3 separate regions of the Homo sapiens genome follow, and regions 2 and 3 are each linked to region 1. Evidence: fine-mapped expression QTL. A gene starts in region 1. Each other region holds a variant in brackets. All regions are shown on one strand. Distances are from middle to middle. Region 1 holds the start of PTPN7 (protein tyrosine phosphatase non-receptor type 7). Region 2 overlaps PPP1R12B (protein phosphatase 1 regulatory subunit 12B). Region 3 overlaps PPP1R12B (protein phosphatase 1 regulatory subunit 12B).

The links.
Region 2: its variant is fine-mapped to the expression of PTPN7 in whole blood (TOPMed, PIP above 0.99).
Region 3: its variant is fine-mapped to the expression of PTPN7 in whole blood (INTERVAL, PIP 0.97).

What each region holds. Positions count from the first base shown.
Region 1 is chr1:202,157,171-202,165,350 of GRCh38, reverse strand. PTPN7 (protein tyrosine phosphatase non-receptor type 7) reads left to right here and starts at 4,749. Exons shown (of 10, transcript NM_002832.4): 1 at 4,749-4,806; 2 at 5,897-6,070; 3 at 7,050-7,233; 4 at 7,528-7,612. The coding sequence starts at 5,949. RefSeq lists enhancers at 180-680, 1,260-1,928, 5,459-5,538, 5,799-5,888, 5,989-6,128.
Region 2 is chr1:202,364,592-202,372,771 of GRCh38, reverse strand. All of the region lies in intron 1 of PPP1R12B (protein phosphatase 1 regulatory subunit 12B), which reads right to left. It also overlaps the pseudogene CYCSP4. Among named protein-coding and RNA genes, the nearest start is that of PPP1R12B, 20 kb to the right of the region's middle. RefSeq lists an enhancer at 7,715-8,180. The variant A/C (reference allele first, on the strand shown) is at 4,810.
Region 3 is chr1:202,574,611-202,582,790 of GRCh38, reverse strand. PPP1R12B (protein phosphatase 1 regulatory subunit 12B) reads right to left here. Exons shown (of 24, transcript NM_002481.4): 24 at 1-2,317. The coding sequence ends at 2,231. Among named protein-coding and RNA genes, the nearest start is that of SYT2, 130 kb to the left of the region's middle. The variant C/A (reference allele first, on the strand shown) is at 4,818.

The DNA of each region.
Region 1 (8,180 bases):
GACCGGGAGACAGGGCCCCTAGAGGTTCTGATAAATAAGCTGGGCATGGTGGCTCATGCCTGTAATCTCAGGACTTTGGGAGGCCAAGGTGGGCGGATCACCAGGTCAGGAGATCAAGACCATCCTGGCCAAAATGGTGAAACCTCGTCTCTACTAAAAATACAAAAAATTCGCTGGGTGTGGCGGCACATGCCTGTAATCCCAGCTACTCGGGAGGCTGAGGCAGGAGAATCACTAGAACCAGGGAGTTAGAGGTTGCAGTGAGCTGAGATGGCACCACTGCACTCCAGCCTGGTGACAGAGTGAGACTCCGTTTCAAAAAAAATAAAATAAATAAGCAGCAGCCTCCCCAGCCCAAACGTCTCCATTCAGCAAAAGAAAAGGTACCACGAGGGCTGTATCTCCTCCCCAGCAACCACCCCCACAGACAAACCCACATCCTCTCCCTAGAGAACCCCTGGGGTTCCCCCCCGCTACCCTGAGGTCTCAGGGCACCTTACTGATTCCTTCTGGAGAGAGCCAGCCAGGAGGCAGAGGAGAGAGCAAGGGGCAGGTCTGGGAGTGCTGGCTTCCAAATGTGAACTGGCCTGGCCTACAGCTGTCCCAGGCAGCGCTCTTCCGGCCCCTCCCTGCTCTCCCACAGCCTGAAGCCTGGCCTTGGGCAGCCCCCACACTGGAGGAAGATAATCACCGGGCAGCAGAGGGGCAGGGTGGCTCAGGACAGCCAAGTCGCCCACTCCCCCTGCTGCCTATACTATGGGGAAGGTGGCCAGGGAGTGGGGGAAGGCCTAGGTCCCCCTGACCAGGCCATGGGAGAGCAGGGGAGGGGCTGGTCATGTGTGGATTGACACTGTGCATGTGCATTTGTGCAAACGTGGGCCATGAGGGTGTACACACCTGTCTGGATGGATGTATGAGTGGGTGTCCGGGGACAACACAGAGCGGGAGGGAGACGGGAGCCCCTGGGAAGAAAAGGCCACATTGTAGAATAGATGTCCATTTGGCTGGCTCTGGGCTTGGGAGAGAGGGAGGGACTCTTCTATCCTAAAACCTTCCTGCCAGGGTCCTGAGTTCCAGCATCGGGCAAAGAACCAGGCACTTTCCTGGACCTCCTGGCAGGCTGGCCCTGGCATCCCAGTGCCAAGCAGGGCTGGATTACTGGTCCTCTCAGCCAGGGGTAAAGGGTATGGGATGTTCCCCTTCATCCAAAAGGTAGCAGGAGGTCCCTAGCTGGCCCGGCACAGGGTTGAAGCTTTGAGACAGGGGTGCAGTTGTCACTCTGGTCAGCCTGGACTTATCCCATGCCCTTAACAGCACTTCCCTGCCCCACTCACCCTGTCTCCCCTGCTGTCTCCCTGCTTCCTGTGGGATGAGGCTTCCCAGATCCAGTTCTTGGTGTTTCTGTCTCCCCGACACAAACAGGAACAAGCCAGGGCCTACAAAGTTGGGGCAGAACAAGCCAGCTCAGGCTGGCCTAGGGTTTTGGGGGTGGGAAGGATGGAGGAACAGCCACCCGAGATCCTAGTGCTTCTCCAGAGAGGAGCCGAGGAGGGCAGCTAGGAAGGGGGCAGAGCAGCTGGAGTGTGCAGGACCCAGCAGTCCTGGCCCCAGGCAGCTGACTCTCTCCCCAGGATCCTCCCCTTGGATTGTTAAAAGGTGGCAGCCTTTGCCTCTGGGGGCCAACTGCTCCCCAGCAAGGAGCTCCCTACTCCCTAGGGGCTGGCAAAGAGCAACGACTTCTGGGAATTCCAGATGTAATGTCCGCCTTTCCCCGGGCCTGGGCTAGGGAGGGGGGCGCTTCTGACACTTGGGGCAGGGAGCTGCGGCTCACAGCCCTGGAACTGGGAATCACTAGAGGGGAAAACAAGAGAGTCAAGACGTGTGTGGCCAGAGCTTGGGAGGGCTGAGGGCACCCACCACAGCCTCAGATGGGACAAGGCTGACTCTCAAGATGCATCATGCCCTGCACCAGTCCCTCCCCAGCCTGGCCTGGTGGCTTGGGACACCCCTCTTTGTCCTCCCTGGAGTGGACTCTGTCCCACCCGGGATGCTGGGAGACCCCTGGGAGTGACTCCTTCCTGCACTTCCTCAGTGCTCGGCTGGAAGTGCCCCGGCAGCCCGGGTTCAGGGAGAAAGTCAGCAGTGAGGAGGAAGAGGGAGGCTGGTGAGAGGTGAGACCCGGCAGCCATGACCTCCTCACCCTGTGCTGCTCCCAGACCCACTTCCCCAGCCAGCTCCTCCCAGCTCCTCGGTCCTCTGGCTGCTGACTCCCAACCTCTCCTCCGTGAGCAAAGCACACCATGGGCTGACAAGGGAGGTGCTATGATCATCCCCCAGTGGAGGGAGGAAGCTGAGGAGGAGCCTGAGACTCAGCAATTTGCCCAAGGTCACACAGTTAATAAGCTACGTTTAGACTCATTATGCATAGATCTTTCTGATTTCCAACTATTACTATACTTTCTCTGGAGTCGAGGGTGGCTAGAACCTAAATCTCAACCCAGGAACACAAATCGATTCGAGTGATGGAAGTTTGAGAGCTGCTGTGACCTTTTGGCCCCAGGGGTGGGAAGGTTCTGGAGGGGAGAGGGAGTCACGCCCAGGAGCCTTCCAACAGCCCGGATGGGACAGAGTCCACTCCAGAGAGGGCAGAGAGGGGCGTCCCAAGTCACCAGGCCAGGCTGGGGAGGGGGAGGTGCAGGGCGATGACGCATGTCTTGTGCCATCTGAGGTTGCAGTTGGCATCCTCAGCCCTCATGAGCTCTGGCCACACACCTCCATGGATGTCCAGGTATCCCTAAGCACAGGGGAAGAAGGAGTGGGCAGGAGCCAAGGAGTGACTGTCCCCTCTACCCCACATCCACCCAGAGGGAACAGGGGATCTTTGAGAGGTCTTGCCTAATGCTCAGCCACTACCCCCACCCCCAACCCCAACTATCTTCCCCATCGCCTGGCTCCCAGCTTCCTTGCTGTGAAGCTCAGCTTCCAACTGTCCAGCCACTGCTAGGCCTCAGTCTGTGGGGGAAAGGGGTGGGCTCACAGCCAACAGGGCTCAGACCCTGGAAACTTGGGGGGACCAGGCAGACCTGTGTGGGGAGGGCTTTGCCGCTTCCTCCTCCCACCCCTGTGGTGTCCTAGCTTCCTGTTCTTGATAACAATCAGCATAGGCTCAGAGCCGGGCCCTCTTTCCAACCCCCACCTGCCCCCTCCTGTGTCCCCAGGGCCCCCACTACCCACCAGTGGAAACACTGACTGGTGTGGGGGGTGAGGCAGAGGCCAGTCTCCAGGTCACTGCTCGCAAGCATGTTAGGGATTCCCAGGTTCCTGCTTCCCTCCAGTCTGTCCTGAGCACGGGAACCAACCCCTTTCCCAGCCCTAATCGGCCTCCTCCTCAGGGAAACCCACCCACTCCGGAGAGGAACGCAGGCTGCAGGGAAGGAGGTGCCAGGATCAGCTGGCCATGGAGGGGCTCAAAAAAGAGCCAGCCCCTGTCCCCACTGCCAAGAGCAAGGGCGGGTGCTGGGAGGCCTTCTGAGCCTCTGGGGGCTGTTCTTGTTCTTCGTCTCAACCCTCCTCCTCAAGGGGCCAGCAGAAGGCCAGCCCCCTCCCGACCACCCCCTCCGGCATGCCTACCCCCTGTGCCTAGGGTACCTCATTTCTTTTTTGCTGTCACCATTTGACAGCTGAATCAGGGAAGTGGGAGGAAGAAAGAGGACGTGGATTGTGCATGTTGGGGGCCGGGAAGGGAAGGGCGTTTGAAATGTTACAAGGTAAAAGGAGGCGTGCAGCGAGCATGAACCGGCTGGGCTGCTGGCCCGCAAGGAGCCTGCCAAGGTCAGGCAGGGGCAGTGGGCAGAGGAGTCTTGGACTTGGGGGCCACCCTTCAGGTCCCAGGCATCCAGGCACCCCAGCAGCGAAGAGGACATGGGAGTCCCCTGGTGTGAGGGCCAGAGACTGTCCACTGTCTGTAAGTCTTCTAAGTAGATGTCAGGGTTCTGGGAGGAGGCCTGCAGGGGGCTGAGGGCCCAGGGGAAGCCCCTCGGACTCCCTCCCACAAGTGGACTCTGCTATCTGCTTCCTGCTGGGCTGGCCTACACTCAGGCCGTGGGCTGTGGAGAGCTGGGCCGTGGCACAGGCGTGGAGACGACCTTTTTGGCCTGGCCCCGGCCCTTTCCTTCACATTGTGAGGCATGGATTCTTGCTTCTTCTTTTTCCCCACCCCGAGTCTGTGCCACATCTGCTCTGGGAAGATGTGGTCTGTGCTTGGCCATGAATTCCCAAGGCTTGAAGCAGCAAGGGCTTTGAGGGAGAGGGCCTTGAGGGAGAGGGCCTTGAGGGAGAGGGCTGTGGGGCAGAAGCAGAGAAGGAGAAATAAGCCTCCGGCCAAGGTCAGGTTGAGCAGGAGAGCCTTGGGTTCTTTGTGGGACAGCACAGAGCTGGGGGTCAGGCGAGCTGTGCCCAGCAAGTAGGCAGCGGCTGGATGTGACAAAGACCCAGAGGAGAAACACAGAAGAGGGGAGAGGGTCTGGAAGCTGGGGAAAGCAGGATGGTCGGGAAGGCCTGGCCCCTCACCCATTCCCAGGGAACGGGGCCTTGGGCCCCAGAAGGGCACAGGCGGGAGGCAGCCGACCCCTGGTGGCAGCGGCAGCAGGCACAGGAGGGCAGAATGCAGCTGGGGTGTGCGTGGGTGGCAGCAAGGAGGGGCGGAGGGAGGAAGCTGGCTTCCTGGAGCCTTCTCAGCCCTCAAAGACAGACCGACAGACAGACAGACAGCTGGCAAGAGGCAGCCTGGGGGCCACAGCTGCTTCAGTAAGTATCTGAAGGGGGGACTGGGAGTCCTGTGGCCCCGGGGGGTGCGAACTCCGGGGATATAAGAGGGCATCTCTAGGAGGGAGTGCGGGAGGGCGAGTGGGGCGCCACAGTGCCTGGCTGGGGTATGGGTGCTCACAGACCTGATGTCCCCAAGACGGGGGTGAGCAGGGAAGCCACAGGGAGCTACAAGGAGAGCAGAGGCTGAAGGGACCTTTTCTGCTACCAGAGACCCTCGCTCTACCACTCACACCTGTGCCAGGCCCATTCTGTCCCCTCACCTCCGTCCCTGCTGCCTTGGTGATTCAACACCCCCGCCACCTCGCCCACTGTGACCCTGGCTCTGGGAGATAGGGACTGCCCCCAAGAGGAGATGGTCCCACCACCTCCATGCCTCCTGTCTTGCCCCCAGCTGTCGCCTCACCATGCGCTGTCGTTCAAGGGCTTGGTGAGGCCATTTCCTGTGACGGTTACAGAGGCGGGAGACGGGGGGATGGGCAGGAGGAGGAAGGAAACACCTCCAGCCTACCTCCCTGGACAGAGACCCCAGAAGCCAGAAACAGACCTGGGAGTGGAACAGCAGCAGTTAGGAGAGGACCCTGCTGGGGTCCAGGAGCCCGCCTGCCTGGCTGCCCAACCAGCTCCAACACTGCTGGAGGCCTCCATTCTCTGTTCAGGGGAAGGCCCACTGGTTAGCTCAGAGATGGCTTCTGCGTGCTTTCTCCCTTCCGTCCTAGAGAACACATATTTTCTGTTTCCTCCCTTGCCTTCTCCCACTTGGACCTGCTCAGAGCCCTGTGTACTCTGGTGTGTGGCCTCTCTCCCCTCTCTCTTTTCCTCCTTCTGGATTCTTTCCTATCTTCATCCACAATCTCTACCCTTTATCTTGCCGTTACTCTACCCCGAGACTGCCTTCTGCCCTGGGTCCCACCAAATAGATCCTGTCCTTCCCTTAGTGAAAATGAGGCCACCTCTTGGGGAACAGAAGACGCCCCAGTGAAAACAGAGTGCAAACCTGGCCTGGCATGGGAGCCTCCTTCTGGCCAATCAGGCAGGCCAGAGAACAGCAGCGGAGGGCCCTGTCTTTCAGGCAGACCTCATGGCTGAGTGAGCCTCCCCTGGGCCCAGCACCCCACCTCAGCATGGTCCAAGCCCATGGGGGGCGCTCCAGAGCACAGCCGTTGACCTTGTCTTTGGGGGCAGCCATGACCCAGCCTCCGCCTGAAAAAACGCCAGCCAAGAAGCATGTGCGACTGCAGGAGAGGTGAGATCTTCCCTGGGGGAGGGGTCTTCCGAGCCCTGAGCCCCCATTCCGCTCCTCCCTTCCTTCCATCTGCCCCTCCAGCTCTGACAGCAGGGTCCAGAGGGCCCTCAGTTGTTGACTCCAATTTGGAAAGGAAACCAGTAGTGCTCATTTGCATGTCTTTTGCATGTCTGGAGCACAGAGTTTCATATCAACCATGAGCCTGCTCCCTAAATTCCAGGCAAGGCCCACAGCCTTCTTGGTGCTGGATGCATGTCGGAGCCACAGGGCCTGGCTGGGAGTGGGAAGAGGCAGGCAGCTGGAAGGAGCAGTTGAGTTCAAGGCTGCCCTGTTCTGGCTGACAAAGGGAGAGGGCTGAGCCAGGCATGGTAGCTCATGCCCAAAATCCCAGCACTTTGGGAGGCTGAGGTGAGAGGATCTCCTGAGTCCAGGAATTAGAGACCGGCCTAGGCAATATAGTGAGACCTCCTCTCTCTCAAAAAAAAAAAAAAAAAGAGGGCACACAGCAGGGGCCCAAACCCTAAATTTACTGGGCTACCAGGTTAAAGGAAAGATAAAGAGCGGCCCCCTCAGAGGTGCCTTATAACAGTAATACTTGTAAGAAAAGCAAATATGGTCAGGCACAGTGGCTCATGCCTATAATCCCAGCACTTTGGGAAGCCAAGGCAGAAGGATCACTTGAGCCCAGGAGTTCAAAACCAGCCTGAGCAACAGAACAAGACACTGTCTCTCCAAAAAAAAAAAAAACTTAAATTAGCCAGGTGTGGTAGCATGTACCTGTGGTCCCAGTTACTCTGGAGGCTGAGGTGGGAGGATTGCTTCAGCCCAGGAGTTTGAGGCTGCTGTGAGCCATAATAGTGCCATCACACTCCAGACCTGGGCAACAGAGAGAGACCCTATCTCTAAAAGAAAAGATAAAAAGAAAAGAAAAGCAAATATGATTGGGTGCTCACTAGGCAGTGGTGGGCTATGCCTGCAGGCGGGGCTCCAATGTGGCTCTGATGCTGGACGTTCGGTCCCTGGGGGCCGTAGAACCCATCTGCTCTGTGAACACACCCCGGGAGGTCACCCTACACTTTCTGCGCACTGCTGGACACCCCCTTACCCGCTGGGCCCTTCAGCGCCAGCCACCCAGCCCCAAGCAACTGGAAGAAGAATTCTTGGTAAGAAATTGGGGTCCCCTCTGAATCGCTCTGCCCTCTGTATCAGAGGCAGCCAGCTGGAACCATTCTCTCACGGGCACCCTGGGCAAGTCTCCCCTTTGGGCCCCTTAGGAAAGAGAACTTCAGGGCTGAGGGAGGGGCTGCCCCCAGGCTTCCCCTTCTGCCCCCACCCCATCTAGGCCTACATACTATTGTCAAGAAGGAATGGCCAGAGTCCAGCTGTTCTAGAAAAAGGTAGAAGGAGAGAAAAGGAGGCTAGGAGTCAGCTGCTCACCCATTTCCTCCCCCTGCCAGAAGATCCCTTCAAACTTTGTCAGCCCCGAAGACCTGGACATCCCTGGCCACGCCTCCAAGGACCGATACAAGACCATCTTGCCAAGTAAGAACTGCTGCTGGGATGAAGGGAGTCGGGTACAGTCCCTGGGGCTAGAGAACTTCAGAGGACAAAGTACACAGTTTCAGCCAGGGAAGATCAACCTTGCTTGGCACATCTTCTCTCAGCAGAGAAAGGGGGAAGAAGGAGCAAGAATCACAACAGCAGCAATAATAATGTTTGCAGATATGTACCCTGGGCCAGGCCCTGTTCTCAATCCTTTTTTTTTTTTTTAAGACGGAGTTTTCACTCTCGTCACCCAGGCTGGAGTGCAATGGCGCAATCTGGGCTCACTGCAACCTCCGCCTCCCGGGTTCAAGCGATTCTCCTGCCTCAGCCTCCCGAGTAGCTGGGATTACAGGCATGCGCCTCCATGCGTGGCTAATTTTGTATTTTTAGCAGAGGTGGGGTTTCTCCATGTTGGTCAGGCTGGTCTCGAACTCCCGACCTCAGGTGATCCGCCCACCTCGGCCTCCCAAAGTGCTGGGATTACAGGCGTAAGCCACCGCGTCCAGCCTCAATCCTTTATATTCACTCATTTCTCACAACAATCCCATGAAGTTGGTACTGTGAT
Region 2 (8,180 bases), 210 kb before region 1:
AGACAGAGTCTCACTCTGTTGCCCAGGCTGAAGTGCAGCAGCACAATCACAGTTCACTATAGACCTGAATTCCCAGGCCCAAGTGGTCCTCCTACCTCAGCCTCCCAAGTAGCTGGGACCACAGGCATATGCCACCATGCCCAGCTATTTTTTTGTTTGTTTTTTTGTAGAGATGGGGTTTCTCTATGTTGCCCAGCCTCCCAAAGTGCTGAGATTACAGGTGTGAGCCACCTTGTCCAGGCAAAATTGCTTTATTTATTTTTTTTTTTTGAGACAGGGTCTCACTCTGTCACCCAGGCTGAAGTTTAGTGTTGATCTCAGCTCACTGCAGCCTCTGCCTCACAGGCTCAAGCCATCTTCCCTCCTCGGACTCCTGAGTAGCTGGAACTATCCGCACGCACCACCATACCTGGCTAATTTTTGTATTTTTTCTAGAGATGGGGTCTTGCTTTGTTGCCCAGGCTGGTCTTGAACTCCTGGATTCAAGCAATCCACCCACTTCAGCTTCCCAAAGTGCTAAGATTACAGATAAGAGCCACTGGAACCGGCCAAAAATTACTTTTATAATATAAGAAAAACTGATTGGAAAATATAATGAAGGGGCTGGGCGCAGTGGCTCACGCCTATAATCCCAACACTTTGGGAGGCCGAGGTGGGTAGATCACCTGAGGTCAGGAGTTCAAGACCAGCCTGGCCAACATGGTGAAATCCAGTCTCTACAAAAATACAAAAATTAGCCAGATGTGGTGGCACGTGCCTGTAATCCCAGCTACTCGGGAGGCTGAGGCAGGAGAATCACTTGAACCTGGGAGGCAGAGGTTGCAGTGAGCTGAGATCATGCCGCTGCACTCCAGCAGAGTGCAGAGGGCAACAGAGCGATACTCCGTCTCCAAAAAAAAAAAAAAAAAAAAAAGAAACTATAATGAAGGAAATGGCATCCAGAATATCAACATAACAACAAAAAAACTTCTTTTGAATAACGCACCATGTTTATGTAAAATGTTAACATTCAGGAAAGCTGGGTGAAGGGTATACAAATACTCTCTCTCTAAACTATCTTTGCAACTTTTTTGTAAATCTTAAATCACTTCTAAATAAAAAGTTTATTCAAAACAAAACAAGAACGTAAAGAAACAAGGCATAGACCAGGGTAAAATATCTATAATATATTTATCTGACCAAGGACTTATATCCAGAAAACATCAAGAATGCCTACAAATCAATAATAAAAAACAAAAAGCAAATTTAATGTACAAAAGACTGAAATCAGACACACACACACACACACACTCCAAATAATGAATAAATATGCGAAAAGGTGCTGAACATCACTAGTCATTGCAGAAGTGTAAATTAAAACCAAAATGAAATAACACTATACAAACAATGGCTAATATTAAAAAGAAAAGGAAAAAAATGCACTGACAATATTAAATATCAACAAAGATGTAGGCTGGGCACAGTGGCTCACGCCTGTAATCCCAGCACTTTGGGAGGCTAAAGTAGGAGGATCGCTTGAGCCCAGGAGTTTGAGACCAGCCTGAGCAACATAGCAGGACTCTGTCTCTACAAAAAAAAAAAAAAAAAAAATAGCTGGGTGTGGTGGTGCACACCTGTAGTCCCAGCTATTTGGAAGGCTGAGGTGGCAGAAAGGCATGAGCCTGGAAGATTGAGGCTGCAGTGAGCCGTGATCAAGCCAATGCACTCCAGCCTGAGTGGCAGAGTGAGACAGAGAGAGACTCTATCTCAAAAAAAAAAAAAAAAAAAAAAGATGTGGAGCAAATGGAACTCGTGTTCAAAAAAAATGACAATATCAGATATCAACAAAGATGTGGAGCAAACAGAATTCTAATTCATTGCTAGGGGTAGTATAAAATGGTACAACCACATCAGAAAACAGCAAGTTGCTAATAAAGCTAAGATTTTACATTCTCAGCCGGGCACGATGGCTGATGCCTGTAATCCCAGCACTTTAGGAGGCTGAGGCAGGTGGATCACCTGAGGTCAGTAGTTCGAGACCAGCCTGGCCAACATAGTGAAACCTTGCCTCTACTAAAAGTACAAAAAATTAGTTGGGTGTGGTGGCAGGCGCCTGTAATCCCAGCTACTAGGGAGGCTGAGGCAGGAGAATCGCTTGAACCCGGGAGGCGGAGGTTGCAGTGAGCTGAGATCGTGCCACTGCACTCCAGCCTAGTGACAGAGTAAGACTCCATCTCAAAAAAAAAAAATTATATACTCTATAACCCAGCAATTTCATTCTCAGGTATTTACCCAAGAGAAATAAAAACAATATGTCTACAAAAAGATTTGTAGACTACTCACAGCATCTTTATCATCTTTATTCATAATAGCAAAAAAAAGGAAATAACTCAAATGTCAATAATCAGAAGAATAAACTAATTTTGGAATACTCACACAATGGAATACTACTCAGCCATAAAAAACAATAAACTATGGATACGTGAAAAATGAATAAATCTCAAAAACATTATGTTCAGTTGAAGAAACCAAACTTTAAAAGGTACATATTCTATATTCCTTTTAAAACAGCTAAAACTGAAAGAGTGGGATGTCCGGCTTCTGAACAGGAAGTTCGTAGTACCAGTGATGAGAGACAGAATTAAATATGGGTGATGTTGAGAAAGGCAAGAAGAGTTTTGTTCAGAAGTGTGCCCAAGGCCGGGCATGGTAGTTTACGCCTGTAGTCCCAGTACTTTGGGAGGTGAGGTGGGCAGATTACTTGGGCCCAGCAGTTCATGACTAGCCTGGACAACATGGTGAAACCCCATCTTGATAAAAAATACAAAAATTAGCCGGGTATGGTGGTGCATGCCTGTAGCCCCAGCTACTCGGGTGGCTGAGGTGGGAGGATGGCTTGAGCCCAGGAGGCAGAGGTTGCAGTGAGCCAAGATCGTGCCACTGCACTCCAGCCTGGATGATGGAGCCAGAACTTGTCTTAAAAAAAAAAAAAGTGTGCCCAATGCCACACCATGGTAAAGCGAGGCAAGTACAAGAGTGAGCCAAATCTCCATGGTCTATTTATGCAGAAGACAGGTCAGGCCACTGAATTCTCTCACAGACGCCAATGAGAACAAAGGCATCACCTGAGGAGAGGAGACACTGATGGAGTATTTGCAGAATCCCAAGAAGTACATCCCTGGAACAAAAATGACCATTGTCAGCACTAAGAAGAAGGCAGAAAGGGCAGACTTGATAGCTTATCTCAGAAAAGCTAATAATCAGTAATAATTGACCACATGACTTTTTTATGTGTACATAATTTAATAGCTCTCTAATATACATCAGAATTCAAATCATGAATAACTCACAGAATATTTTTGTTGAGCAGTCCTGATTTAATTAAGACTCGCTTGTGGTTAAATGAATACATTTGGGTTTTTTAAAATTTTAACAGTAATTCTGATTCAGTAAATGGTATCACTGTTTCCCCCTTCTAAAACTATGATTGGACTTAATTCGTAGTGTTCAACTTTTCACAAAGATGGTGAATGCCATCTTAAAACCTATTAGAGATTGGCTTTATATTTAGATTTATATAACTAGCTATATGAATATATTTAAATACTGGGGAAATGTCTTCACTGTCTCAGAACCAAGCAAGACCCACCTGTGTTCTGCGTTCACGTGCCTCTTAAAGGCAAAGACTAAAGATAAGGTAACAATGTCTACTTTATATTTCTGGTCTTAACTATGTCAATTTAATTAGAATTCTCTGTGTCTAAAATGGTTCCTTGGCTGGGCATAGTGGCTCATGCCTGTAATCACAATACTTTTTTGGGGCTGAAGTGGGAGGATTGCTTGAGGCCACAAGTTGGACCACATAGAGAGACCTCATCTGTACAAAAATTAAAAATAGCCAGGCATGGTGGTGCATTCCTGTAGTCGTAGCTACTCAGGAGGCTGAGGTGGAAGGATGGCTTGGGCCCAGGAGTCAAGGTTGCAGTGAGCCATGATCCTGCCATTGCAACCCATCCTGTGTGACACAGTAAGACCCCATCTCAAAATAAAATGGTTCTTTTAACTTATTAAAAGGCATTTTATATGGCTTATATATATCAAATAAAGAATAGTTAATATTTCTTGAAAAAAAAAAAGAAAAATACAGCCAACACTAATTCTAGAATGATAGAAATTATAACAGTGGTAGCCTGGGGGAGGATGAAGGGGTGGTGGGTAGAACTTTCAAAGGAGGCAAAAATGTCCTATTTCTTGATTTGGGTGATGGTTACCATATTAGGCTATTCTTGTGTTGCTATAAAGAAATACCTGAGGCTGACTAGTTTATTAAAAAAAGAGATTTAATTGTTTCACAATTCTGCAGGCTGCACAAGCATGGCACTGACATCTGCTTGGCTCCTGGGGAGGCCTCAGGGAGCTTTTACTCACAGTGGAGGGCGAAGCGGAGCAAGCACATCACAGGGCGAGAATGGGAGCAAGGTTGCGGGGGGCAGTGCCAGACACTTTTAAATGACCAGATCTTGGCCGGGCGCAGTGGCTCACACCTGTAATCCCAGCACTTTGGGAGGCCGAGGGAGGCAGATCACCTGAGGTCAGGAGTTCAACATCAGCCTGGCCAACATGGTGAAACCCTGTTTCTACTAAAAATACAAAAAATTAGCCGGGTGTGGTGGCAGGCGCCTATAATCCCAGCTACTCGGGAAACTGAGGCAGGAGAATCGCTTGAACCTGGGAGGCGGAGGTTGCAGTGAGCTGAGATCACACCACTGCACTCCAGCTTGGGCAACAAGAGCAAAACTCCGTCTCTAAAAACAAAAAAACAAAAAAAAA[A/C]CAGATCTCCTGAGACTGCACTCACTATCTTGAGAACAGCACCAAACCATGAGGGACCCTCCCGTATGACCCACACACTTCCCACCAGGTCCCACCTCCAACATTGCAGATTACATCTCAACATGAGATTTGCGGGGGACAGATATCCAAACCATATTGGTTACATGGTTGTATACGTTGTCAAAACCCATCAAACTGTAGATTTAAGTTCTATGCATTTTACTATATGTAAAATTTACCTCAATTTAAAAAAATGAGAAGGTGAGGAAAGTTCATCTGAAATTTTTAGATATCATGGCCTGGAAGTGCTTCACTACAAAGGTGACATTTGCAAGCCATGTGTGTAGCTGATGGAATAGCATTCCAGGCAGAAGGAAAAACAGATGTGAGGCCCTTAAGCATCTATTCCTAGCAACTGGAGTTTTTGAGAAACAAGGAGGACACTAATGTGACTGGAATGGGTTGAACAAGGGAAAGACAAGTACTGAGAGCTAATGGGGGATCAGATGATACAGTGTCTGGTAGGTCACGGTAAGACTCACTAAAGATTTTTATCCTCATCTTAGTCTAAAAGAAAATCACCTAAATGCCTACTAAGAATAAGGCACTGTGCACAGACAGCTTACATAAAGCTTATGTAAGTAGCAAAACCAGGATTAGAAACCAACTATGTCTGATTCCAAAGCTCATAATCTTAACCACTTTGCTTTACTAACTAAACATAACAATACTCAATATTTACTGAATGCTTACTATCAATACGTTAGAGCTAAAAGGCTTTATATCAGATCTTCCCAATCATTTATTGTTCTAAAATGGCTTATAAGTAGTGTAATGTAAAGATCTTCTGAATAAAATTTTGTATTGTATTAAAAATGTTTTGCAACCAACTAAAAATTCAGGATGGGTAAAGTTATATTTAATTCATATAGTTCTCTACATAAACTTCCTAATTATAATTTTGGTACAGAAAACTATGCACATGACTTCACTATATGGAACCACTTAAGTACCATAGTTTTGGTACATAAAACTATGCACATGGCACAGTACAGTGACTCCATGAAATAGCCCCTTCTCTTGATCTTCCTGTTGAATCATTTTAGTCTATATTTTTATTTTAGTCTACATTGTTTAACAATCAGTGAGGTTCTACGTTTTGCACCCATATGTAAATGAAGTTTTCTATTTAATTTGCTCTAATAGCACCACAATTTCTAAATGTATGTTTGTCATCAAAAGCATTATAATCAACATCATCATTATTAATACATCTGGTATTATTAGGTGTTCCTAAATAAAACATAATTTTGTAGTTTCTTAGTCTATTTATTTAATATTCATACATTTTTATTCTGTTGCTCAATGTCTGATTTTTAATGTATTTTGTTATCATTACTGTATTAAGAAAACACAACTGATTTTTTTTTTTTTTTTTTTTTTTTGAGATGGAGTCTCGCTCTGTCTCCCAGGCTGGAGTGCAGTGGTGCGTTCTTGGCTCACTGCAACCTCCGCCTCCCAGTTCAAGCAATTCTCCTGCCTCAGCCTCCCGAGTAGCTGGGATTACAGGCATGTGCCACCATGCTTGGCTAATTTTTGTATTTTTAGTAGAGACGGAGCTTCGCCATGTTGGCCAAGCTGGTCTCGGACTCCTGACCTCAAGTGATCTGCCCGCCTCAGCCTCCCAAAGTGCTGGGATTACAGGCATGAGCCACCACACCCAGCAACAATGAATTTTTATACCAAATTTGCAAATATTCTCTAGTTTACCAGGGGTCTTACACAAATGTCGTCTTCTGTGTATACCATGACATGAAGGAGGTAGGAAAACAATGCTTTAGCTATTACTTCACACTGAGTAGGTGCAGAATTCTGATAATATAAAAATCTCAGTAGTAATGGAATGCTAAAAGAATCCTATCTCTATAAAACTATGTCTCTAAGAGGTTTTTTTGTGGGGGGGCGGGAGTGGAGGGACAGGGTCTTGCTCGGTCACCCAGGCTGGAGTGCAGCGGTGCAATCATAGTTCATTGCAGCCCGAAACTCCCAGGCTCAGGTAATCCTCCCGCCTTAGCCTCCTGAGTAGCTGGGACTACAGAGGTATGCCACCATGCCCAGCTAATTTTTGTATTTTTGTAGAGATGGGGTTTTGCTATGTTGCCCAGGCTAAGATCAAGCAATCCGCCCACCTCAGCCTCCCAAAGTGCTGTCATTACAGGTGCTAAGAGGCTTTTAAAAAAATAAAGAGGTCTAAATGGAGAGGTGAGCCAGGATTTCAGAAAACCAGCACAACCTAGGTAGAAGACTAAAAGCTTCTGAGTCAGACAGATGTGAATTTAAATACCAGCATGACGTGTGATCCCTAGGTTAGGACAAATTACCTTCTTTGATTCTTCTTCCTCATCATTAAGTGGAATAAACCACCTATTTGGTAGAGCTGTTGATGTAAAGATAATTTTTAAAAAGCAAAATGCATAGCAACACTTGGTATAAAGCAGCACTCAGTAAAAATTACTTTTTTTTTTTCTTTTTTAGAGACTGTCTCACTCTGTTGCCTAGTCTGGAATGCAGTGGTGTAATCTTGGCTCAACCACCCTGGCACAAGCAATCTTCCTGCCTCAGCCTCCTGAGTAGCCACAACTGCAGGCGACCACAATTGGCTTTTTTTTTTAGACTTAGGATTTCCCTGTCTCTAAAAATGCCCAGGCTGGTCTCAAACTCCTGGCCTCAAGTGATCCTCTCGCCTTGGCATCCCAAGGTGCTGGAATTACAAGCATGAGCCACTAAAGCTGGCCACAGTACTTATGGTAATTTTAACATACCATGAGTTCAACTATGTTAAAATATTTGCAAAAGCTAAGACAGCCTGAGGAAGAACAAAGGAAAAAAAACCAATTAATATGTTAGGGTGGTATTTGTACTAATTGTTTTTTGTTTTAAAAAATTTTGCTGGCTGGGTGCGGTAGCTCATGCCTGCAATCCCAGCACTTTGGGAGGCTGAGGTGGAAGGACTGCTTGAGCCCAGGAGTTCAAGACCTGCCTGGGCAACACAGTGAGACCACATCTCTACAAAAAATTTTAAAATGAGGCCGGGCGCCGTGGCTCACGCCTGTAATCCCAGCACTTTGGGAGGCCGAGGCGGGCCCATCACGAGGTCAGGAGATCGAGATCATCCTGGCTAACACAGTGAAACCCCGTCTCTACTAAAAATACAAAAACTTAGCCGAGCATGGTGGCGGGCGCCTGTAGTCCCAGCTACTCGGGAGGCTGAAACAGGAGAATGGCGTGAACCCAGGAGGCGGAGCTTGCAGTGAGCCGAGATCATGCCACTGCACTCCAGCCTGGGTGACAGAGCAAGACTCCGTCTCAAA
Region 3 (8,180 bases), 420 kb before region 1:
GCCTCAGCCTCCTGAGTAGCTGGGACTACAGGCGCCTGCCACCACGCCTGGCTAATTTTTTGTATTTTTAGTAGAGATTGGGTTTCACCGTGTTAGCCAGGATGGTCTCGAACTCCTGACCTCGTGATCTGTCCACCTCGGCCTCCTGAAGTGCTGGGATTACAGGCATGAGCCACTGCACCTGGTGGAATTGGGATCTTGAATTACAGCTTCTAGTTTAAACAGCATGTGGTGTTTCAGAGGGAGGACCATGGAGAGCTACATGTCATGTTAGGAAAGAATTAACAGACAGAGGTAGTATATATTAAGGGAATGAACCACTCTAAACACTGAATATCACTGGCAACCCTAAAATGATGAGGATTTAATGACTTGCACACTCAAGTGAACCAAGGGATAAAACTCCTACAAAAAGAAAATACTGTAAGTATTAATGCTAGGTTATCATCAAGAACTAATGGTTTAATTTTGCACTGGATTTGTATTCTTTCCAGGCCTGGACATGATATTTTAAAGGCTGGTTTTGTCTAGAGGAGGATGGCCAAGATGTGACAGGTAAGAAAAGCATGCCATATGAGGAATGACTTAAAGGACTAGAGTAACAGCAGCTCAAAGTAAGACTGAGGGGGAGACCACCCACTGCACATATCTCAAGTGCCGTTAAAGAGTTGCAGATAGTAGATCTGGACTACAAGGAGAATCCACAGGCAGACTTCAGCTGATATGAGGAAAAACTCTCTCGTTATTAGAGTTGCCCAACTTTTGAGTAATAAATGCATAGCCACCAGAGGCTACCTGACCATGCCCATGGGTGAAAGCTGTGGTAGCAGGGGTCCCTGTGACACAATAATAGAAAGCTGGACCTAATGACCTCTGGGTCTTGCCACTCTAAACTTCCATGACTCTCATCAATGGGTTGAAAGTACTTCATTCCATTAAACCTCTATTAAGTGCCATTTCCCCTATTAATTTCTAAGAAAGTAAATCTCTCTGCTAAATCTAACCACTGGAAATAATCAAATTCACCACTATTCTCACAGCCCAGTAGGCTGCTATCTTCCATCTTCTTTGTCACAATGTTGCAAGTGGCCTCAGATACTTGACTTTCGCCATATGTGTCTTTCCAGCCTGCTTCCACTTCCTAGTCCATCTCTCAACAATCTCCCCTCCCCACCTCTCATTCCTCCTTGCACTGACTTCATTTCTCATTAGAAGCAGGTGTCAGGGCGAAGAGAGGAAAACAAGGTCAAGGAAGTGAGGCAGAATGGAGTATTCAGAGCCCAAATTTTCTTATAAAGAAAATCACTTTGAAGGGGGAAGATAAGTGGGAGACGAAAACAATGAGCTGACACTTATGCCATAGTCTACCTTCCAGGGAGCAGGCAGTGGTGCTGCCACCAAGGCACCAGAGTGATGATTTTCTTGTCTCCAGAATAATGACTTCCCACAATGGCCAAAGACAACTGAGGTCAGGTGCTCTGTCCTAGCTTTTATACCATTGAGTGAGGGGGTGGGGAAGGGAAAAATATAAAAGGATAGAAAGGAAAGGAATAAATGAAGCCAGGGCCATTTGCGCCTTGGAGAAATGGCTAGGTATGAGGGAGGAATAAGGGTTAAAACTAGTTAGGGAGATTACTGGGTGTTGACAGAAAAAATAAAAGTCAGTTCCTGAGAGGTGAAGAAGAATAGAGCGCCTCAATGCAGTCACTGTCACCTTGGATGCTAACCATTCCAGAGGGCATCTGATGATCAATTCAACATCCTGCTGTTTCTCTTGGCACCCCAATCAGGATCCTGGAGTGGCTACCACAAGACTCACCTATATCAGAGGACACTGGGTTAATGTAAAAAGCTGAAGGATACTGATTAGGGTAGAAGTCTTACATGTTTGGACCAAATCCAATGTGGACAAAGTAGCTGAGCAGCAGGAAGTTGAGGGGTCCACAGCTGAGCCTGGTGTACTCCCCAGAGCATTCTCCAGATGGCTCGAATTACCACAATCATGCTTCAATTAAAACTGTCATAAAACTTGGGATAGGGGTTTGGAAGAACAGGGCATTGAAAGTGCAGAGAAAATGTAGAGTGTATAGAGGTGACTGAAGAGGGTGATAGAAAGAAGTGTCCTTCCACCAAAACATCCATTTCTTTTGGTTGGAAGGCAAGGACTGGAAAAGAGGGGTGGGGGCAGCAAATGCTGTCCCTTTCTTTCCTCATAAATCTGGAGCCTAGCCTACTTGGACAGTTTGCTGATGACTCTGATGAGGGCACCATTTTCATCTTTCAGCCTCTGGTTGTCGGATTTCAGTTCTGTTAACACCTGTAGGGTGACAGAGGGAAAGGTGAGTTAGAGCCTGGCAGGATCCTCCTTGGCCCTCCCTGACCAGGCCAGGCCAGCCTGGTGAGCAGGGCCTTTTGAGACAATGTGTGGAATAAACTCTCATGGTCCCTTCTCCCAGGGATGAAATTCCCTTCAATCTTCCTTTTTATTGAGTTGGTAATGTTAATCTTTAGGGAGATTATAGCCACTCCATCTTTTGAGCTGGCATATTTAGCAGTAATATCTTATTTCTTCATAGGCAGACCTCACATTTCACACTGTATATCCTTTCATTCTACTGAATCAGTAACCACTTTCAATTTCTCCTGCCCTTAAACTCACCCCTAAAGAAATTGGGGAGAGAGCCAAAATGGGCTGGTGAGGACATAGGGAAAGAATTCAGAAAGGGGGTGGTGGTCAACTAGAAGAGTTAAAGGAGGATACTGCTTCACATCTCATCAAAAACAAGAGCAAAGGCCAGAGAGGCAGTACTCGGCTTTCTTGCCATATGCACAAGATGATTTAAGCATCCTCCACTTGGTGCCTTCGGTGAATAATCCTCCAAATTCTCACTGGTCATACTATACATATCCACTTTCAACAATTAAAACTCAGAAAACTTACACTCACAGAGCTGTGAGGCACAGTGAACACTAGGCATGTATTTAATCCTCCCCAAAGCTCCCCACTGACAGTCACCAAAGGATACCCAGAGGCCTCATCAGCAGTTTTAGGGGATGGCATTGTAATTCACAGAAATAGATGCTTGTTGGGCAGGGGAGGGAGTGGAAACTCAATTTTATTAGTTCTGCTATCCTGGAACATTACACATACTGTTGTCTAACTTGTGAAAAAAAGGAAAAATAGCCTCAAGTTCCATCCTGGAAGTTCAAGTCTTTGTTACATGATCAGGCACTTTCAACAAGTACGCTGTGCATCTGAAAAATCCTAATGGGATGTTGATAAGGGTACAGTTTATGTGTGGGTCCCACTGGCAGCAAGAGCGATTTAGGATAGCAGGTAAGTACATCGCCACTATGCAGGCTACAGAAAGCTACATCTGTATCTGTTCAATACAGGTGTCCTTTGACTAGTCATTTCAACCTATAGGACCCCAGGGGCAGGTAATGCCCCCAGTAAAGGGTGACCTGTGCTGAGGTGTTATGAGGCCTATTTAGTTCTAGCTCTGGCTCTGCTATTAACCACTTAGGAGATCTAACTGTGCCTTAAGGAATATAATCTGTTTCCTTGATCTCTCAGAGAAGATATAGGTTAAATTATATAAATATATGTGTATGTACACAAATATGAATCACAGATACATAAATAATTTGTATCAGGGAAATAAAAAGAAAATTACTGAATATCTATAATGTGGATGGCACTGTGCTAGAGGGTCTCCCTAGTGCCTCATGAGACTATGATACAGTTGTTATCCCGATTTCTACAAATGGGGAAATGAAAAGTGCCATAACTAGTTCAAGGCACCCAGCAAAGCTAATATTGAATCCCAGTGTGCCTGACTCCAAAGATCATTCTTTTATTACACGTGGGATGGAAAACAAAACACCAAAAATGTTTGACGCCTAGAAACTGAAATTCCAGCATTGTCTTTGTCACTAGTGATCTATTACTTTAGGCAGATCACTCGCCTTCTCTGCATTTCCATTTTTGTACTTTCGTAAGAACAACAGTCCCTGTCCTACTCTCTCGTATGGTAGGGACTCTGCAAGGCTCACAGGAGGTAACAGATGTGGAAGTGTGTTGACATACATAATGAGCTTTGCGATACTGAGTGTTCCTACAATCACTGTGAGTTTTCTCATGACTGTGGGAGGGCAGGCAAATAATCTGCAAACTTTATTAAGAAGACTTAATCCAGAAAATATAAAAATAAAGTTGCAGTCCTTTGACCCTGGTCTCCTACCTCTGATTTAATCAAAGCAGCTCTGGCTGCCCTCTCCTTCGTTCCTCTATCCCTGTAGCCTTGCCTACCAGACTGAATGCTTGGAAACTCATTTCAATGAGATTTTTAGAAAAAACCCAGGGTGGCCTCATGTTTCCGTGTTCAATCTGCTCTTTAACGCCCCATGCTGGGGCTGCAGCTTGGGTATAAGTGAGACGAAAGCCACATTTCCATAATAGGTAGGAAGAAGCTATATATGGCAATGGATTACATTTCACTGCTTAGCAGCTCATCAAATCAGAACTAAGCTGCCTTAAAAAATGTATAAACAACTTGTAGAGTCTTGTAGAGTTTTAGTGATTTATTTCCACATTAAGAAGTCAATTCCTTGAAAAAAAAATTTGGACAAGGCAGTTTTGCAGCTGCAACATGCTACAATTGACATCTAAAGGGAGTGGCAAAAAGTGTTAAGAGGTGGAATGTAGAAATCAAGGGGCGGGGGAAGCCCCACAAAGTTCAATCTCAGCAGAGAGAGGGGGAAATGAACAGTGTTATCTGATATCCACTTGAAGTTAAAGAATGGTTAAATAAGAA[C/A]ATATGTGAAAGTACGATATAAGTATGAAGTTTAGCAAAGCTTTATCATTTTAACTCTCTGGATCTTAGTTTCTTAATTTTTAAGTTCCCAGCTTACCACAATTTGGTGTTAAAGATACCCTGGGCAAATAAAATTAAGTACACATTTCTCAACTGTTACTTCTTACAGTCTTTGAGGAATGTGTTAAAGAGGAAGGGGCTACAGGGGTCCTAAAGCTTCAGAGACCTAGAGCAAGGCTAGCTGTAGGTTGAGAGGGACTCAGGATGAGTCTTGCATGAGCTGTCTTGCTTTTAACTACAAGGAAAGTGGGAAGGGAGTCCCCTCTGGTATTTTGTTGGTAAGTGGTTTGCTCTACATGCTGAGATAAGATGATTTTTCCAGGGAACTATTAAAAAAAAAAAAAGGTAGAGTAAAATCTCTCGACTGCACTGCCAGTTTGGCTTAGTTATCTCATCCTTCCTTCTGGCAAGAATCGGCAAGCTTTTTCTGTAAAATGCCAGACAATAAGTATCTTAGGGTTTGCAGGTCAAACAGTCTCTGTTGCTACTCCTCAGCTCTGCTGTTGTAGCACAAAAGCACCCATAGACATAACAATAATATGTAAACAAATGAGTTTGGTTCAGTTCCAATAAAACTTTTATTTTGGACATTGAAATTTAAATTCCATATAATGTTCGTGTTCATATGTCGTAAAATATTATTCTTCTTTTGATTTCTTTTTTGACTATTTGTATGGCTTATGGGCCATACTGGTGGTGGGTCACAGTTTGCTAACCCTTGCTATGGTCATGTACCAGGCAATGGCTTTCTTTACAGCAGCAAAATCTTTTGGTAGGTAAATGGCTCTTTAGAAGTTAGGCTTTGACAAGGAAGTCACAGTGCTCAGAAAGCAGAATGCTGCCCTTCCTCCCTCAGCTGCAATGCTGGGGGCACAGTGTAGTTGCTCAATAGATCCTTCTTGCATTGTTTGGGCCACATGCTTAACAAATGGTGAAAACTGTGCCAAATATGCAGACAGCTTATATTACAGTGGTGAAAAGTTTGCACTCTGGAACCTGACATATTTGGTTTGAATTTTGGTTCTACCACTTACTCTCGGAGTGACCTTGGGCAAGTTATTTAATCTGTGACTCAGTTTTTTTTTTTTCATTTTTACAATAATTGTTTTGGGGAATAAATGAGAAAAACTATATAAAGCATTCAGCACAGGCCTTAAATAAATGACAACTGTTAAGGTTATTAACTACTGAAAGCATGAGATCTAGTTTTGCCCCATATCCTATACTATCTTGCAACAAAGGGATACTAAAAATAACTGGGACACCTTTTGGGGGGTCCCTAGTTTAGCCTAAGTAAAAATTTCCAGGAATCTTGAGGCTAACTTTAAAGCATGGAGTCTGGACCTAACAGTGGCTGCTTACAGCCAGGCCATGGTAGAACTTGCCTTTCAATTTTCTTTCTGCCTATGATAGCATCTACAGCAGGATATTAGCTCAGCCCTATGATAATTCGGGTGATTCAGTTCTAGTGGATATTAGTTGCCAGCTACTAACCCTGAAGGCAAAAGCAAATAGGCTGAAAGAAAGAACAGGCTCTGGTCAGGACTAATTAGATTGTTGCTGACAATTAAAAATTCATCTCAGAGGAGTGGTGACCCCATCATACCATCTTGAGATAGAAAAACCAGTTGTCTGTGAGCTTGTCTTTCAGATCCATAGCTAGGGAAAGGATCCAGTTTGCCAAGCACATTTTTGGTTCTCAGTTGAAAATAAATCCTTGCTCTCTGCTCCACTGCCTGCCATATCCTTTGCAAAGCTGGCCTCATTAGAGAGGGCCTGGCTCCATGAGGGTCTCATTTATATAGGCTGTGTTCTGCCTCACAGCCCACACACTAAGGACAGGGAGGGGCACATCCCTAGGGCCCAAAGATTTGTGACGGGAATGAGAGATATGCCTCCTAAGGTGGGAGAAGAAAGCAAAGACTACTGCAGAAGGAGGCAAAGAATGCTTATCCAATTATGCTTGAATAATGGGATGCAGAGTGTTTTTGCTGGTAGTGGAGCTGGACAGGAACAGTTCCAACCTTGAGTTTTAGTCCTCTCCATCGGTAATGTTGTCAGCCGTGAGGACTGTCTGGTATCCAAAGGGCTGTGGTTCTTAACCATGGTTGTATAAGGAATCAATAGGAGAGGTTTGAAAAAATACTGATGCCTGGGTCTCAACCCAGACCACTGATTATTTGGGGATGGACCCAGACATCCCTATATGTATATGTTAAAAGCTATGTATATGTTTAAAATATACCCATAGGTATACGTTAAAAGCTCCTAGATGTTTCTTGCAGCCAAGATTGAGAGCCCCTGCCCTTGGTTACCCAAGGCCCAACCCCAGTTGCTCCAGGGGAGTGGGTTGGACTTGGGTTGCTATTGGCTAAGAAAGATCAATTTCCATCTGGCAATGACCCCGTCAATGAAATATGTATATGTGCATGTACACAGGTATATGCACATACACGTGTATACCTATGTGTAGCTGAGTGAACAAATTCATACTCAGTCTCCAGGGGAAGAGAAGCTAATGTGGTGACCTTACCAAATGAATATATTGGTAGCCCAGCTGAGGTCTCTCTCACTGCCTCCCTTGACCTAGGCTGGTATGTCCCATTCTATGATCTCAGTCCTGGCTGCTTCCATCTGCAGATAACCAAGCTTTGCAGGAACCTGCATATGGAGGCTCGGATGGAGGGGATGAGCACAGAGCTTCTGGGACTAACAAGAAGACTGAACCTGCCTGGAGTAGTGGAGGAGGGAAGTGAGTTGGAGAGTAGGGGCAAGAACTAGAGCTCCTGGGTGTCCGAGGACTCGATGGACTCCGAGAGTCTGGCCACCACTCGGGTCAGGGCCCTGTTCTCAGCCTGCAGTTGCTCGTTCATCTGCTTCAAGGTTTGAATCTGTTTTAGCTGGTGGAGGTTCTGTAGAGATTGAGACATGAAAAGGACAGACAGAAAAGACAGAGAGAGACAAGACAGACCAGAGGAGAGAAAAGTAGGACAAAGAAATCACATGACTTTTTGTTTTTGTTTTTAGTTTGCATGCAAGAAAGGAAATGAGAAAGGCAGGAGTCATGGAGCAAATGGGTGGCAGGTGGAAGGATGATGGAGAAAAGCAACAGGGAAGGAGAGCTATGTCTGATTCTTGGCTAAGATCTAAATATGCCATATGAATATAACTGCCAGGCTCTCAAAAGGCACATATGGATTGCTTTTGAGAATGAAAGTCCAGCATGTGGTTTGGAGCCTTCTGAACCAAATTAACATGGTTGAGGCATAACTTCAGGGACCCTTCATCATGACTGAGATTAGA